Linked DNA regions of Homo sapiens. The protein of the gene in region 2 purifies or fractionates together with the protein of the main gene of each other region. This does not show direct contact. Each region holds a gene or a part of one and is shown on either strand. Other genes may lie near its edges.

What was found. The genes of interacting proteins can lie anywhere in the genome.
Region 1: the proteins of CDRT15 (region 2) and MAP4K5 purify together in Homo sapiens (affinity purification with mass spectrometry; 3 studies listed by BioGRID and IntAct, with this or other methods). This does not show direct contact.

The regions. Positions count from the first base shown.
Region 1 is NC_000014.9:50,526,070-50,529,569, forward strand, and holds part of MAP4K5 (mitogen-activated protein kinase kinase kinase kinase 5), read right to left. Parts: intron 1-3,500. UniProt on the Homo sapiens protein: May play a role in the response to environmental stress. Appears to act upstream of the JUN N-terminal pathway.
Region 2 is NC_000017.11:14,235,173-14,238,190, forward strand, and holds CDRT15 (CMT1A duplicated region transcript 15 protein), read right to left. Parts: upstream 1,691-3,018; 5' UTR 1,662-1,690; coding exon 1,400-1,661; intron 1,259-1,399; coding exon 1,110-1,258; intron 840-1,109; coding exon 684-839; 3' UTR 501-683; downstream 1-500.

The sequences.
Region 1 (3,500 bases), on a different chromosome or scaffold from region 2:
GCACATACTATACCCAAAGCCTGGAATATCTTTTCCTATCTTCTCTACCTAGAAACCACTGGTCTTCTTTTAAAAATCCAGTTAATGTTCCTTCCTCTGTTAATCTTCCTTGGTTCACACTCCTCTCTCTCCCTTCCTTCATCCCCAATAAAGGCAGAGTTTGGCATTTCTTCCACTTCTCCTCTATGGCACATAATTTTCTACCAAATTATGACTGCTTACATGTCTGCTTTCTTTTTTCTTTTTTGAGATGGAGTTTTGCTTTTGTTGCCCAGGCTGGAGTGAAGTGGCGCAATCTCAGCTCACTGCAACCTCCGACCCCCGGGTTCAACCAATTCTCTTGCCTCTCCCAAGTAGCTGGGATTATAGGCACCTGCCACCATGCCCGGCTAATTTTTGTATTTTTAATAGAGATGGGGTTTTGCCATGTTGGCCAGGCTGGTCTCAAACTGCTGACCTCAGGTGATCCACCAGCCTTGGCCTCCCAAAGTGCTAGGATTACAGGCGTGAGCCACTGCGCCTGGCCACGTCTGTTTTCTTGACTAAACCATATGTTCCTTATTGACAGTGTACTTCATCTCATGTTTGCATCCCCATATCCTAACACATTGTCAGCACTCAACAAATACTTCTTTAATGAATGAATGCTTCTAGAAGTGTGATGATACATTAAGCTTTGTCTCTATAAAATGGGATCTTGGGATATGTTTCAAAGTGCCTAAAGCCATTCCAGAATGGTGACTCTTGGCTGGAGGAAAAGAAAGTAAAGGCATACATAAAGGAGATTCCCCATAGCAGACCTAATTCATCTAGCATCCAGAGGAACCCACGTTAGTGATAAGACTACATGACAAAGACTTCTACGCAAATTATAACATCATTTATAATTGCAAAAAAAAAAGTTTAAAAACTAGAAATAACAAATATGCAACTTAGAATGATTAACTAAATGAAGGCTCATTCAACGGATCCTTTAAAAATAGTACTTTTGACTGGGTGTGGTGGCTCACCCTGTAATTCCAGCACTTTGGGAGGCCAAGGTGGGCAGATCACGAGGTCAGGAGATTGAGACCATCCTAGTCAACCTGGTGAAACCCCGTCTCTACTAGAAATACAAAAATTAGCTGAGTGTGGTGGCACATGCCTGTAATCCCAGCTACTCAGGAGGCTGAGGCAGGAGAATCACCTGAACCAGGGAGTCAGGAGGTTGCAGTAAGCTGAGATTGCGCCACCGCACTCCAGCCTGGCGACACTGCAAGACTCCGTCTCAAAAAAAAAAGTACTTTTGTATGATTACACCACTGCACTCTAGCCTGGGCAAAAGAGCAAGACCCTGTCATCCAAAAAAAAAAAAAAATGTACTTTTGTAGAATATTTAACGACTAGGGAAAATGCTGGTCATTTCAATCAAACAGAAAAAAGACCTGTATCATATTCCCAATCATAAATTAAATATAAAAGCCATTTTGGAAATACTGATTTAAAAACATTTAGGAAATAAGCCTGAAATAAACTGTATTAAATTATTAGCAGTACCTATCTCTGAGTAATTTTCTACAACTAATTTGTTCAACAAATATTTATTGAGCATTTGTTTGTTACATTACAAAGATGTGCAAGAGACATCTGTTTCTGTCCCCTGGGAACTAAACATGTTATTCTTCTATAATCAATCAGATAAAGCAATAAAGCTTAGAAAAAAATTCATAGGATTGCCCAGTCTAAATTTATATTCTATGAAAGGTAAAATAATAATAATAATAATAATAAATAAATAAATAAAAATAAAAATAAAAAGCCAGATTGCCAGAACTTCTCTGAAATCTAGGCTGGAAGCAATTTTGATACAAATATTTGGATAAGGGCTGCCCAAATGGCTTGTACTACTGATTATGAACTGTATCATGATGCTGTAGTTGTTATAGATCCTTGTGGTCAGAGGTAGTTGAGAATCTAAATCTCCAGATTTATCCTTCCTGCTGGCAGATCTACATTTTTACAGTAATTACAAATAAAAGCTGCTCAGTTGACATTTAATCCTTCATCCACCATCCACCAAATTCCTTTTCTCTTCTGTGTTTCTTTTCCCTCTACCATTTCCTGCTCTTGCCCTCAATGATTCACTCCATTTATCTAAAAGAATCTTTATGTTCCTCCTCTTCTTTCAACCAAAGAACAGCCAATATAAGATTGAACTCTCCCTCTTGGGGATTCTCAGGAAAGATGGAAGCTTCAGAGGGGATCTGTGGTATTGATGAACATAAAAGTAAATTACGAAGAATCTCAAAGCCAGAGTCCTTTAAAGCTTCTGCTTCAAAAGATACCTAAGGTGTAAAAAAAAAAAAAAAAAAAAAGGCAGGGAAAAATCCAGGCTTGGTGGCTCACACCTATTAATCCCAGCCCTTTGGGAGACTGAGGCAGAAGCATCACATGGGGTCAAGAATTTGAGACTAGCTTGGGCAACACAGGAAGACCCTGTCTTTACATTAAAAAAAAAAAAAATTAGCCAGGCATGTTGCCACACACACTTGTAGTCCCAGCTACTGAGGAGGCTGAGGAGAGAGAATCCCTTAAGCCCAGGAGTTCAAGGCTGCAGTGAGCTGATCGTGCCACTGGACTCCAGCCTAAAGCACAAGACCATCTCTCAAAAACACAGGGGGATATTATCTGAGTAGAACAGTGGCTAATTTACCTTCATTATTCTTTACTGCAGGTATTTCACTAGTTTATATCCTACATTGAAAATACTTCTAAAACGTCCTAGGATGTTCAGCTCATCAGAAACACAGTGATAAATAGCAAAATTACTCTAATTGCCCAGAGCTTAAAAAATTCAGCACTACAGTTTCAGGTTATGTGTTTTTAGGCATACTAAGGAGTAAATTTAAACTGACAAAATTCTATAGGACTTAGATCACTGATAGTGGATATACTATAAAATAGTTTTTCAGAAATATTTCCCCAGAGAACTCAAATAGATGAAATTTGTAATAAAAATACACACGCAGGGTATCATTAGACAGCATCACAGGGCCGGATGTGGTGGCTCATGCCTGTAATTTCAATACTTTGGGAGGCCGAGGCAGGCAGATCATTTAAGCTCAGGAGTTCGAGACCAGACTGGGAAACATGGCAAGACCTCCTCTCTACTAAAAAAAAATACAAAAATTAGCCAGACATGGTGGCACACACCTGTAGTGCCAGCTACTTGGGGGGCTGAGGTGGGAGGATCACTTCAGCCCGGGAGGTTGAGGCTTCAATGAACCAAGATCACACCACTGCCCTCTAGCCTGGGGGACAGAGCGACATCCTGTATCCAAACAAACAGACAAACAGAAGGCATTACAGGAATACATAGAGTATTAAATGCTAACTTAGTGCTATGATGTCAAAAGCATGTGCTCAGAGAACTAAGTGACAGAGTCTGATATTCATTCATTCATTCATTCATCAAATTTTTAGGAAGTACTTACTCTGTGGCAGGCATAATCAGAGACAGA
Region 2 (3,018 bases):
TGCAGAGAGCTCCCTCATCCCTTCTGTCATGTAAAGACACAGTAAAAAAGATGGCTGTCTATGAACCAGGAAGTCAGCCCCACGGAATCTGCTGACAATTTGACCTTGGATTTTACCATCTCCAGAACTGTGAGAAATCAATTTTCTACGCTACCTAGTCTATGGCATTCTGTTTTGACACCCAGATTAGCTAAAGTAGCAGCATATCAACTTGCACACATAATTCTTGGAAACTCTGATGCCAAATCCTTGATGGCAAAAGGTGATTGATCTGCCGGAGACATGAGCCTACATCATCCCTCTTTCCACAATAAACCAGAGAGTCAAAACAGTCAAGAGTAGGTCAAGGTCTTCTAAAAGCCATACCTGAAAGGTTTCCAATAACAGATGACTCGATGGTAATTCAGCCACACAAACAACCACAACAAAAGACACAACTATCAGAGATTTTCAGGATAGCCTCAAAAACACCATCTAACATTAGGGAGTTCAAAAAGGCATGAAGTTTCAGAAATCAAACTTTATTGTAATCTCGTTTCATCAACTTGTAATTCTAACACTATTAATAAATGGTAGGGCAGGTGGTGGCATGGAGAGCCTGGGGCACAACGGCTGTCGTTAAAAGCTTTGTTTGCTTTACCCTTTGGAGCCACCTCCTGGTCCCCTCACCCACTGCCCGCCTGTTAAGGGCCTGTCCCGGGCAGCACATTAGGGGCAAACAGCCTGGATGCCCAGCTGTGGACCCGCATCCATGCCTGGAGGAGGAGGTTGCCTCTGGGAGCAGGCGTAGCTGCTGGAACTCTTCTTCCCAGCCTTCTTTTAATGCTCTCCGGCACCTCCTGCACACAGATAAACCAGGATCAGGAGAATAAACGGACCTGCAGCAGCAGGACTGTGGTTCTAGTGAATGAGAGAAGCCTCTCTCCAGCGAGGTACAGGAGGCCAGGCCAAATGCCCTGCTCTCTGCCTGCATGTTTGCCACCGTGCCCAGGACTAGGGGCAGCATGGGAGCTGCTGGCTGGGGCTGTGCTGGTCACCCCCTCCCTCCCACTTCTCTCTCCAGCCACGCTTTCAGTTCCAGGGTTAGGGCTAGTGGCTACAGTACGTGCCGTGATTTCAGGCAGCTCCTCGTTGGTCTGGTCCTTGGCTGGAGCTCCCTCCAGCTCCAGTGCTCTCTCTGGAGGGGCCTCTTCCCATGCTGGCTCTGGCTCCGCCGCTGGTGCTGGCAGTGCTCTTACTTCTGCACATGGACCAGGAGCTGAGAAAGGAGAAAGGGTCACCAGCCTCAGTCACTTTCCACTGGAATTTCCAAACACAGAAACGACCTCACTGAATTTAAGGGAATTCCAGCCCAAAATCACCGCCCCCGCAAAGTCTTCCAGGCTGCAGGCCACCTCACCAAGTGTCTGTGCCTCAATGAGCTCCTGAATCTCCTGGACAAGGACAGTGTGCAGCTGCAGCCCCAATGGGATCTCTGGTGTGGCCTGGCCTGCTAGGGCCTGCCCCAGGCTGTCCTGTGGTACCTGGATGCGCCTTATTACAACGGGCGACAGGCGTCTGGGGTGAGGGATGAGCCTTCTTCGGCATCGTCGGAAAAGGCTCTCACTCCCTCCATTCCTGAAGCAGCAACCTCTCGAAGTGGGGAAGCAACACGAGAACATCTTGCTCTCTTGAGCGACTCCCACCAAGTGAGCTGTTTACGGCGCTGACTCTAGGATATGGGTGCCTGGTTACCAGAGTTCTAAGTTCTGTTCGTGTGGTCATCATCCAGGAAGTGAGGTCGCTTCTTTACGGTTCTGTCCCCTAGTCCCCTTCCTTCCATAAGACCTACTCAGGACTCCACTGGGCTGCTGACTACTCACCCTCCCCTCAGGTCATCTCCTGACCCGTACACAGTTATGTCCACCCAGGGTCTGCTTGGACACCTGTGCCTGATGTTCACCAGGGGCCAGATGTCGTCCTCAGGCCTGATGTCCACCTGGGGCCTGATGTCTGCCTTGGCCTATGTCCCTCTTGGGGCCTTGTGTTCACCTGGGGACTGTATCCAGCTGGGGCCTGATGGCCTACTGGGTCTTGTTGTTCACCTAAGGCCTTGTGTCCACCTGGGGACTGGTGATCACCTGGGGCCTGGGTGTCCACCTGAGGCCAGAGGTGCACCTAAGGCCTGAGTTTTCACCTGGGCCTGATGATCACCTGGGGACTTGGGTCTAATGTCTACCTGGAGCCTTGGGTCTAATGTCCACCCGGAGCCTACGTATCTACCTAAGGCATGATGTCTACCTGCGGCCTGATGTCCTCATGAGTCTGGTGTTCAACATGGGCCTGCTGTCCACCTAGGGCCTTGGTGTCCATCTGGGGCCTGGTTGTCAACTTGGGGCCTGGTATACACTTTGAGTCCAGGGTCCACCTGGGGACTGACGTCTGCCTGGAGGACTGACGTCCTCCTGAGTGAGGTGGGAGGATCTCTGGAGCTCAAGAGGTTGAGACCACAGTGAGCTGTGATTGTGCCACTGCCCTCCAGTCTGGGTGACAGAGTGAGACCCTGTCTCAAACAAATAAACAAAAAAGCCACACAAATTATATAGCTATACAAAAATATTTTGTTTCTTTTTAACCTTATTCTATGAGCTTTTTTCATTATTTATTTATTTTACTTTTAAACCGTTTGTTGTTAAAAAACAAGACACAACCAGACACTTTCGCCTAAGGCTAAGCAGGGTCAGGATCATCAATTTCACTGTCCTCTACCTCCACATCTTGTCCCACCGGAAGGTCTTCAGGGGCAGTAACAGGCATGGAGCTGTCATCTCCTTGATAAGAATGCCTTCTTCTGGAAACCTCCTGAAGAAACTGCCTGAGGCTGCTTCACAGTTACCTTAAAAAAAAGTAGTAAGCATATACTCTAAAATAACAATAAAAAATATAGGATATTAAATACATAAAACAATAACATCAGCATCTATTATTTTCATCAAGCATTATGCACTGTTGATAATCGTATGTTCACACCCACATCAC